Homo sapiens: one gene and its partners. The protein of the gene in region 3 purifies or fractionates together with the protein of the main gene of each other region. This does not show direct contact. Each region holds a gene or a part of one and is shown on either strand. Other genes may lie near its edges.

The links.
Region 1: the proteins of ERMAP (region 3) and ELMO2 purify together in Homo sapiens (affinity purification with mass spectrometry; 2 studies listed by BioGRID and IntAct, with this or other methods). This does not show direct contact.
Region 2: the proteins of ERMAP (region 3) and USP34 purify together in Homo sapiens (affinity purification with mass spectrometry; 2 studies listed by BioGRID and IntAct, with this or other methods). This does not show direct contact.

What each region holds. Positions count from the first base shown.
Region 1 is NC_000020.11:46,386,015-46,389,763, reverse strand, and holds part of ELMO2 (engulfment and cell motility protein 2), read left to right. Parts: intron 1-543; coding exon 544-725; intron 726-1,973; exon of another isoform or gene 1,974-2,064; intron 2,065-2,326; coding exon 2,327-2,426; intron 2,427-3,488; coding exon 3,489-3,640; intron 3,641-3,749. UniProt on the Homo sapiens protein: Involved in cytoskeletal rearrangements required for phagocytosis of apoptotic cells and cell motility. Acts in association with DOCK1 and CRK. Was initially proposed to be required in complex with DOCK1 to activate Rac Rho small GTPases.
Region 2 is NC_000002.12:61,469,180-61,472,928, reverse strand, and holds the start of USP34 (ubiquitin carboxyl-terminal hydrolase 34), read left to right. Parts: upstream 1-1,841; 5' UTR 1,842-2,236; coding exon 2,237-2,279; intron 2,280-3,749. UniProt on the Homo sapiens protein: Ubiquitin hydrolase that can remove conjugated ubiquitin from AXIN1 and AXIN2, thereby acting as a regulator of Wnt signaling pathway.
Region 3 is NC_000001.11:42,814,866-42,818,614, forward strand, and holds the start of ERMAP (erythroid membrane-associated protein precursor), read left to right. Parts: upstream 1-2,256; 5' UTR 2,257-2,388; exon of another isoform or gene 2,389-2,532; intron 2,533-2,668; exon of another isoform or gene 2,669-2,950; intron 2,951-3,749. Other genes in the region: SVBP (small vasohibin-binding protein), read right to left, coding at 1,566-1,679. UniProt on the Homo sapiens protein: Possible role as a cell-adhesion or receptor molecule of erythroid cells.

The DNA of each region.
Region 1 (3,749 bases), on a different chromosome or scaffold from region 3:
AGTCTTCCCACCTCAGCCTCCTGAGTAGCTAGGACTACAGGTGTGCACCACCACACCTGGCTCATTTTAAAAAATTTTTTGGGAGTCAGGGTGTCACTCTGTTGGCCAGGCTGGTGTCTAACTCCTGGCTTCAAGCAATCCTGCCTTGGCCTTTCAAAGCCTTGGGATTACATGCATGAGCCACGCACCCAGCAAGACAGCTTAAATAGAAAACCTTCCTCTATTAAACCAGTATCTGTTTCTCTGTGACTTACCATCGTTAGTGGGCCTCCCAGATGCCTCCAGTATTCCCTTGGTAGGAATTTTTTAAATCCATAGGCCAAAGCGGTACAGAAAAGATGCAGATAACTACAGATTGGTTTTGGCATACTAATAACTCCCTGATTGATTCCACAAACATTTATTTAGCAACTCCTAAGCTGTGTGAAAAAACTAGTTCTGCCTCAGGTTTGGATGTCCACAGAAGGGCCTCTGTGAGCTATCCACAGAGTAGTAACCTGCTCCAAGGAGCAGATGGCACATATCTTGTCCCTGGCCTCCTAGTCCCGGGCTGCACGCCAGCTGATGGAGAGGACCCAGTCATCCAACATGGAGACCCGGCTGGATGCCATGAAGGAGCTGGCCAAGCTCTCTGCCGACGTGACTTTCGCTACTGAGTTCATCAACATGGATGGCATCATTGTGCTGACAAGGCTCGTGGAAAGTGGAACCAAGCTCTTGTCCCAGTGAGTATGACTAAGGTCTCGTTCCAAGGACTTCGACGATTTACTACATCCCACAGGGCATCCTAGTCTCATTTCCCTTGAGTCAAATAAGGAGTTTATTGAATACCACCTGTGTGCAGAGCAGTGTGCCAAGCACTAGAGTCCATACCAAGATATATAATTCCATATTGTGATTCTAAATCGTGTAGTCTATTTGGGCTCTCACAAATTAAATAACAGTACAAAACAGTACTGTGCCAAGTGAGCAGTGAAAATAGGGGCTAGAGAAGTCAGGAGGAGAGCAGTCACGTCGTGACAGACCTGTTAATTGCTGGAAATGTTTGGTTTGATGAGGGTTAGTGAGCAGATGGTCCAGTATCTCCCAGGTGTCTGTTTGTAATCATCCCCTGCTCCTCCCTCTTCAGTCACCTCCCAGCCCATACACACACACACACACACACACACACGCCTTCCTTTGTGTTTACCACAGGTGTCAACCTACCCATTCACCATCTCCCTGCCACACTTTTGCACAGGGAGGAGGAGACCAGAACTTTGTGATACCCACAAGCATCTTCATCATACCCCAGAGTTCACATGCATGCGGTGGGCAGCTGTGCCTTGTGAGCAGCAGTCAGTAAACAGGTGCTTGGAGCCTAACCTGCCAAAGAGGGAGTCAGAAATCTTCTCAGCCCATAGATCAACTATTGAAATTGTTAGCCAAATCGAGTAACTAATCATAGATATTTGTTTTACATATTGGATCTTCCAGCTGTATTGAAGTCCTGAAGCCTTCAGCTGCCATCAGCACTGACATAGTTCTACAGTCTCCCAAGGGTACAGGGTTAGACTGGCCTTAGTTTCACTCTCTTCAGCCTGAGGATAATAATAGCTACCTTGCAGTATTATTGTGAGAAGTATTGTTAATGAGAATGTGTCTGAACATGCTTTGTAAATAGGAATATCATCTGTTAATTCTAGAGCACTGTACAGATGTATAAAGGATTAAATGTATAAGGAGAAGAGAAAAAAGAGAAAACATTTTAATCCTTATTCTCTACCAGCACTAGAATAAGAGCTTTGCATACATCATCATCTTGTCGTCTCCACAACCCTGTGAGGTTAACGCTGTGAGACTAACTTGATTTTACAGAGGAAGAAATTGAATTTTGAAAAGATAAAATTTGCTTGGTTAGTAAGGTGGACAGGAACTGAACCCATCTCTTGCACTCTACTGCCTCTTGGCCCAAAGGTTAACATGGCACTTACACTTCCTTAGGTTCTCCCAACAGGTGTTGGAGTTTGACAAAGGTCCAATGTCTTCTTTGGTCTTGGGAAATAGATAAGTGATTCTGTGTCCCTGGGATGAAGCATATGGAGAAGGAAGATCTAATTACCCAGCAACATTTTTTTTTTTTTTTTTTTTTGCAGCGATAGATACCTGGGCTGAATCTGCTCTACACTGGCTAGGTGTGCACACAGGCACTTACAGTTACAGTTGCATCGACTGATTTCCCATGGGGTGTTCACATTAAAATTCATCTTTTTTGTGGCTGCCCTCACACCTGTGTTTCCCGATCTGAATCTTTGTCTATTTTGTGTGTGTGTTGCACGTGTCTCAGCTACAGTGAGATGCTGGCATTCACCCTGACTGCCTTCCTAGAGCTCATGGACCATGGCATTGTCTCCTGGGACATGGTTTCAATCACCTTTATTAAGCAGGTGAGGCCTCCAACATTCTGTCTTTCTCTCCTCCCTCAGCTGCCAGTTCACAAGGCTTAAGGGGAGATACAGGCAATATCGCCATTCTGGTGAGATCAGCTTTATATTCCCTGGGGCCAGATTTTTCATCCTCAAGCTCTAGTCTTCTGTGGCTTCTGAAAGATTTGCATTTTGTTATATTCTCAGGGCCTGCACTGAGATGGAACTGGACCGTCAGAACTAAATATGATCAAAGTAGAATTAGATTGTCAGTGAGACTGGGGATAAAGCCAGCCAGTCAACCAGTACTAGCCCTGAGTCTTTTGACCGACTTCCTGAGCTCTCTCTTCTTTTTGTATATATATAAAAAAAATTTGCATTTCATTTGTAAATTTGCCTTCTATTTACAAATCTGCAAGGTAGCCTGTTTGGATTGTCAGACTAAGTTCAGTGGGTAGGAGAGGGTACTTCTGGTTTTACCCTCCTTTCTTTTACACAAAGGAGCAGTGTCAATTCAGAATACTGAACTAAAACCAATGAATAATATTGTATCTGCTGCCCTAGAACTTCAGCTATCATTGGCTTAGGACATTGGGACTCCCCGACACTGGACACAAGTGAAATGACCATGTGTCAAGGATATTATAATGGGGACTGAGAAGAAGGATTAGAGTAAAAGGCTTCAAGGTCCTTTCTACCTCTCAAAGTCTAAGTGTGTTTAGGGGGAGTGTGTGTCAGGGGAGGTACATGGAGATAAAATGAGATCCCAGTATCAGTAAAATCCTCTGCTTTTTTATACCCCACTTTCTCAAACTGGAACCCTTATTTTGATAAAAAGAATTAAGCTTTTAGATTTTGAGGAAACACAATTAAGTGGATACTATAATCTGAGATTAAGGTATCCATGCCAAGGGAATCCCTGGCACATTGGCCAGGGTAGCCGTAAACCAGATACCACTATCCACCTAGCAACAGCTGCCCAAATGTGAAGCAGAGAGAGCTTCAAGGGCTAGCATCAGATGCTAAGCTTCTATCTTTCTTGGGCCCTGAGCTTCTCAATTGATGTGCCATCTCTGGGTCTAGATTGCAGGGTATGTGAGCCAGCCCATGGTGGACGTGTCAATCCTTCAGAGGTCCCTGGCCATCCTGGAGAGCATGGTCTTGAACAGCCAGAGTCTGTACCAGAAGATAGCCGAGGAAATCACCGTGGGACAGCTCATCTCACACCTCCAGGTGTGAGTAAAAAACCCTACACCTCCCTCCCTTCACTTGTCTGTCCTCTTTTCTCCTCTTATTTTAAGTCTTCCAATCCTACTCTCCTTTGCTTATATTCCAAGCTGTTGG
Region 2 (3,749 bases), on a different chromosome or scaffold from region 3:
CAGCCTCCCTAAGTGCGGGATTTCAGGAGTGAGCCAACGCGCCCAGCCACCTTTTAAATTTTTGTAGACACAGGGCTCCCACTATGTTTCTCAGGATTGTTGCTTACCTTTTATCAGGAGGAACTCAATTATGTATGGCCAGCCCTAGAAAAGCCAGATCACCATGATGGTTGGTTTCAACTGCTACCTGAAAAAACGTGAGACCAGCACGTTGGCTCATACCTGTAATCCTAACATTTTGGGCCGGAGGATCAGTTGAGGCCAGGAGTTTGAGACCAGCCTGGGTAACATAGCAAGACCCTGTCCCTACTAAAAATAAAAAACAATTAGTTACGTGTGGTGGAGAGCGCCTGTAGCCCCAGCTACTAGGGAAGTGGGAGGATCCCTTGAGCCCATAAAGTGGAGGCTGTAGTGAACTGTGATCGCACCACTGCACTCTAACCTTGGCGACAGAGTGAGACTTTGTCTCAAAAAAAAAAAATTCAAATAAAAATAATTGGGGTTGTGTTGGCAGGGAAAAAAGGGATACGTGGGAATGTATGTTGAGTGGACAACGAATGTCTGCCTCAGGATCCAAAGTAAGTCTGCAAAAACCCAATTCTGTGAGAAAGACAAGGAAGAAGGGAAGATGATGGTAGAATAGAACTACAATCCTAAGGATCACCTGCTAGTGGGAAACAAAACGGGTTGGGCAGACTGTTTATAGTATCAACTTCAAGCAGCAGAAAGGCAAAGCATTTGGAACCAGGTGGTTCTGGCATGGAGAGATGGGCGTGCCATAACCTCCACAAAAGCTATCGAGAGAATGACTACAGAGCCTTGACAGACACTCTGGTTACCGTTCAGAGATTCTGTACACGATCTTTCGGACTTTGCAGTCACATGTCTATGTAAACACGTTGAACACAAAAATTAGCAAGCAAGGGGTAAGTGCCGGCGTGAGGAAAATTCCCTTACAAGCTTCAGCTGACTGCCCCCTTCACCTGTTCTTTATCTTAATATCCTTGTTATTCGCTCTCTGCTGAAGAAGATTTCTTGCTATTTCAGGTGGGGCTGATGGGCACATCGTGAGGGGCCCTCTTCCGTAAAAACGAGACGATGTCAGGCAAACACTCCTTACCCTGCCATTTCTAGTTACGTCAAGGATCTTACTGCTCCAGGACGGAGGACCTTCAAGGAACTGCAGGGTAGCGATAATCACCGATGCAGTTAAGCCGGGCCCTGGGCTGATTCACTCTCAGACCCCGGGGGGAGTGGCCCTTGCGCCCGAAAGAGGGCTACGGCGTAGACCCGGCCCGGCACCCAAGTTGACTCCTTGCTTCCCGTACCCCAAAAGCCTAAGCGCGGAAGAGGCCGGGGACACCAAAGAAACCCGCACCAACTCCCCGACCCAGGCCCTGGGGAAAAATGGCGAAGCCCAGGGGCGGGGGACAGGACGGAGCGAGTGACCTGGCGCTCCCCGGGCCTCAGAGCCCGTGGAGTGGGTCGTGGTGGGCGACGCCACGCAACCGCGACCCGTCCGTTGCCTCCGCCATCTTCTCCTACTCACCCGGACTCCCCCCGCGGCCGCGCTGGCTTCGCGTTTCCCTTCCGGCCGCTGACAGAGATCCGGGCTGGGCGGGGTGGGCGAGCGCGCGGAGGGGGTGGACCGAGGGCGGGGAGGCCGGACGGAAGAGGAAAGGGAGGGCGGCGAGCCGGCCACGGCGGGGTGTGGAGCGTGCGGCGTGTGTGCGGAGGGAGAGGTGGGGGGCGGAGGAGAGGCGAGAAAGGGAGGGAGGCGGAGGAATGAGAGCGCGAGGCGCCTCTCGTCCGCTCCTAAGCCCGGGCGGAAAGAGCCGAGCGCAGCCCGAGCGCTCTGTTAAAATGGCGGCGGCGTCGGCGGTGGCCGCGGCGTCTGGTCGGTGAAGTGACTCTGCTGCTTCTCTCCCCACCCGCCCCCTCCCCCCCTCTCCCCTCCCCCCGTCCTTCCCCCCCTTCCCCGCCGCCGGCGCCTCGGCGCCCCTCCGGCCTGCGCACCTCCCCTCGCTCCCCTCCTCTCCCCCTCCCGCTGCGGGGACCGCCGGCCCCCTCCCCCATTCTCTTGCTCCCCGCCCCGTCCCCGCCGCCGCCCGCCCTAGTCGCCTCCCCGCCCCGCCGGCCGGCCGGCCCCCTCCTCCGCCTCTCTCCCCTCCCCCCCGCCGGTCGGGATCAGTCAGTGTGATCCGAAGCGGGGGAGGGGGGGGGCGGCGGCCGAACGATGTGCGAGAACTGCGCAGACCTGGTGGAGGTGTTAAATGAAAGTAAGTAGCCGCGGTAGCGGCCTGTCGGGGTGCACGGTTTGGGGTCCTCGCGCAGCTCTCTGGCCTCCCCGGGCTGCCGCGGCCTGCGGGAGGCGACGGCCGGGCCGGGCGGCGTGCGGGCCTAGCGCCCCGGGAAGGTGCGCGGTGGCGCGGCCGCCGCGGCGCCTCGGGCCCAGCCCGGCCGGGTTACCTGGGCGCCCGAGAGGCGGCCGCCGCGGAGCTCCGGCTCGGCCTGGCCCGGGCGCTCTGGGCTCTCGGAAAGTTTCCTCATTACAGGTGTCAATTAATGAAGGCAGTAATGAACCCCTCGCCGCCTTCGCCTCCTTCGCCCTGCCGGGAAGGTGCGGGGAGGTGGGGTCGGAGGACGAGGCTTTCCTCCGCAGTCCAAATCCTCCGGCCGCCCTCTTTGATTTCCAGCGTGCTGCCGAGGCCTCTCTTACCTGCTAATTTTCATTAAACTCCCGGGAGCAGGGTGGTGGTTTTTCCCTCCCTTGCGGGTTTGTGGGTGTCTTAAACACTTCAGCCAGACCTTAAATAGCTGAAAACGAACTGTGATAGTGATGATTGGAACCTTCATACCTATTTTTAAAATAAATTTGTTAATGATGTTTCTTAGTGTAGCATTCACCGCTTTAATGGTACATTCTGTTAAGCAGAGCACTGTACTACACATACCATCCCGGGATAGTTATGGCCTATCTCTCTTGGAAGGAAAGGCCTTTTACCTGGTACTTTACTTTTTATTATTAAAAAGGGTACGTTGATCTTTTCTGGCCTTTTTATTTTATTCTCGACCCTTGCAAGATGGTATTTCAGCTTATAGAAGATATATTGCAAATCAACTACTTCTGGGCGTAAAGGCCTAGTTGGCAGAGGTGAATTAGATGAAGGGATCAATTTACAAAAAGTTGATTGTTGAAAAAATGCTCACTTATGAACAGTTTATGTGGGTTTTGGATTTGTATTCTGTTTGTGATATTTCCACAGACTTTCAGACTATCTAATTTTGTAATACAATTCGCTAAAACAGTTGATTTATAAAATGTACCATGGTATTTGTGTTTGACTGTCACTTTAATGACCAAAGACAATAATAAAAGTGGAAGGGTTCTAACTTAATTTCAACTCCGTATTTACTTCCTGATAGGTGGAATAGGCTTTTGCACATATTCCAACTAGAGGTTCCAGTATTTGTGTCACCCTAAATTATCCTAGAATTTTAAGATTATTTGTGTGTATTTTGAGATACTTTTATTTCTGGCGCAGGCGGTTTACGATATGATAAACTTAAATCCTCAATACTTACTGTGTTTTATATCTCACATACAAGTCGTGTGATTATGATTGTTACGCTCAACTTGGAAAGTTAATCGTTTTGCAATGTAATATGAGGAACAAGTACTTAATTTTGTTGGTGATTTTAAATATCTTTTTTTTTTCTTGAGACAGAGTTTTGCTCTTGTTGCCCAA
Region 3 (3,749 bases):
GGGTATATACCCAAAGGATTATAAACCATGCTGCTATAAAGACACATGCACACGTATGTTTATTATGGCACTATTCACAATAGCAAAGACTTGGAACCAACCCAAGTGTCCATCAATGATAGACTGGATTAAGAAAATGTGGCACATATACACCATGGAATACTATGCAGCCATAAAAAGGGATGAGTTCATGTCCTTTGTAGGGACATGGATGAAGCTGGAAACCATCATTCTCAGCAAACTATCGTAAGAACAAAAAACCAAACACCGCATGTTCTCACTCATAGGTGGGAACTGAACAATGAGAACACTTGGACACAGGAAGGGGAACATCACACACCAGGGCCTGTTGTGGGGTGGGGGGAGGGGGGAGGGAAAGCATTAGGAGATATACCTAATGTAAATGACGAGTTAATGGGTGCAGCACACCAACATGGCACATGTATACATATGTAACAAACCTGCATGTTGTGCACAGGTACCCTAGAACTTAAAGTATAATAATAAAAAATAAAAAATAAAAAGAGACTCCATCTCAAAAAAAAAAAGCAATGTGGCAATGTCTAGTAAAATTGAGAATGTACCCAGTAATTTTTCTAGTTAAATAACCTACAGAAATTCTAAGGCAGGTGCCAAAGGAGACACCTAAAAGCTTTTCACTACAGCAATGTTTGTAATAGCAAAAAATACTATAAATAATTTAAATGTGCATCTCTGTAAGAATGAATAAATATACTAAGTAAAATGGATGCATAAAATAGACTATTATAAAAATTAATGAGAATAAACTAAATTCTTATATTGGCATGAATAGTTCTAAAAAACAATGTAAGCAAAATGCAAAATAAAATGCAGGAATTTTATTAATGTAAAAATTTAAAATACTACTGTATATTGTTCAAGGATATCTATTAATATATTTGAATGTAAAAGTATAAAAAAAAGTAGTTGTCCATGGAGAAGTAAAAGGATGTAAGACAGGAAATGAACAAAGCAGACAGATAAACAAAACAAAGAGGGAAAAAGAGACCAGCAAGATTTTCCCTGACATTAAATACTAAAATAAAATACTTATGTCTGTATGTGGCTCAATATTGGCAGGGTAAAGTTTAAAGCTTTTTATTCTCAAGTTGATTGTAATCGTTGAGAGAACAAAGGAACACACTGGTGAGTTTAAAGCTTGGGCCTCTACCTGGCATGAGTAGCTGCTTTCCGCACCAAATCCAGAACATCTGTACTGGGGGTGTCTGACACTTGCGTGCTCTCTCTCATTCTGACCCCTTCTTTCCCCTTACATATCATTTTTTTTCCTTTCTTCCTTCCCTTGGGTCTCTTACCACAAAAGCTCCGCACCAGACTGGGGTTCTGACACTAACTTGGCATGTGATTCTGGGCTGCCACCTCACCATTCTGAACCTCAGTGTTGTCCCCTCTAAACCTGGGAGAACACCCATCCTGCCTGGAGGCAAGTATGGCTCGCTGTCAGTTCTCCTTTCTGCTGTTTCTCTATTCCAGCATCATCTCCAGCAGACTACAGGCATACAGAGCCTCCGCCTTAATCTCACCTCTGCTCTTTGTCTCTGCTTCAGCTCCTGCTGGGCTGATTTCTGTTTGGCCTTCTCAACTCTGCTGACAGATTCTTTAACTTTGGTTTTTTCTTTACGTGCAGGTGGATCCATGGCTTGACTTCTGGATATTTCTTAGGAGGCTCTGATCTGGGTGGTACAGAAAGAGGCAGATCTTCAAAACAAAACAAAACAAAAAATACCCTGCCAGTTACTCCTCTAATCCTTTAGCTCCGCCCCATCCTTTGCCAGGTGAGGCAGAGTGGTCTGGTGGCAAGGGCGCTGGATGTGGGGGAGTAGGAACCGAGTCCCAAGGCCACAACCTCGCTGGGTGTCCCTGGGCAAGTCTCCTCCCCACTTTGAGCCTTAGTTTTCTGTCTGCAAAATGGGTTAAGTGTTTTCCTGGCCTCCCTCCAGGAGCTGCTGTGTGCGGGTGAAATGCAAAGACCCCTGTGAAAGCGTTGCCCACTGTGCGGCGTGCGGCACCCAGCGCGGAACCGTCCTAATGGGACGCTGAGACCCAGAGGGCGCCCAGGGTTTTCCCACTGCGGCCGGCCTAACTCCGCCGCAGCAGCCGCTCCTGGGGCCAGGGGGCCGGGCCCCATAGCCAGCCGGGCCCGCCCCCCACCGCCCGGCCCCCCGACCCCGCCCCGGCCCGCCCGGCCCCAGGGGACGGCCCCCGCCTCCTGCCCTCTTCCCTCTCCTGGAGGAAAATGGCGGTCGCTGGAGCCGCCGACCAAGAGGCTTGGGAGTCTGTACCTTTCCCGACCGGGCCACTGGAAGTTGGAGCCTCCGCCGAGTCGCAGACAACGCCTCCGGGAGGGTAATCCTCGCCTTCCCCCGACCACTGGACCCAGCGCTGCCTGCCCACCGCCCCTCGTCCTGGGCGGGGCCGCGCGCCGGGGGGAGGGGCGCAGGGCCGAGCGCCAGGAGGCTTCCGCCCGCAGGAGCGGCCGCGCGTGCGCAGAGAGGATGGCTGGAAACCCGCGTAGAGGGCGGGGCGGGGCAAGCCGGTGCCGGGGCGGGGCAGGGGCGGAGCCACACCGGGGTGGGTGGTGGTTACGGCTAACCAAAGCTTTTTCCCGTTATATTTTCTGCAACAGCTACTAGGTTTTAGAGGGTGAGATCCGAATCCTGGAATTGGAATTGCTCAGAATTCGAATTCCGAGGCTCAATTTCTTAATTCGAAAAGTGGGGATTGATGATTGCCACCTTCTTCATTCATGAGTTTATTGGGAGGATCAAGTGAGATCCCGTTTGCCACAGTGCTTTGAAAAAGGAAATCTTGACAGAAGTACCAATAGCCAGTATAAATACAGAGAACATTCACGTTCAACTGATTACCGAGGAGATGTAAATTAAAATAGCTGGCTGTAATTTTCCAGGTATTACATTAGCAAGGATTGACAAAAATGATAATAGCTACCTTACATTTGGGCTTACTATATTCCAGGCACTGTTCTTACAGCTTCACATTTATTAACTAATTCCTCATAATAAGTGTGTATAATGTATACGTGTATATTATTATCCCCATTTACACATAAGGGAACAGAAGCATTGAAAAGTTAAGTGAGTTGTCCCGGGTCACACAGCTTCTAAGTGCTGGAGCAAATATTTCAGCCAGGATTCATAGGACAATGGCCTTATCCAAAGTAAAACCCTGTTTGGGTCCACTATTTGTTCCTCTATCAAACTGGCAAGAATTGAAACAACTGATAGATGCTAAGCAAGCAATGAACTCAGCCCAGATGGACACACGCTTCCAGTCAAACTGTAAATCGTTAACAGCCTTTCTGGAGGTCAGTTTAGTACTAGGTATCAAAAGCCTTAAAAGTGAGCACAATGCCCCAAAAAGACAAATACTGCATGTTTCCATTCATATGAAGTATCTAAAGCAATCAAAGTCTAAGAAACAGAAAGTAGAATGGTGACTGCCAGTGGCTAGGAGAGAGGGAAAAGAGGAATTGTTTAAAGGGTATAGAATTTTAGGTTTGTAAGGTGAAAAAGTTCTAGAGATCTACTGCACAATGTTTATTTTTTATTTATTTAATTTTTAAAAAATAGATGGGGTCTTGCTCTGTCACCCAGGCTGGAGTGCAGTGGTGTGATCATAACTCACTGTAACCTGGGCTCAAGCAATCCTCCCACCTCAGCCTCCAAAGTATCTGGGACTACAGGCAC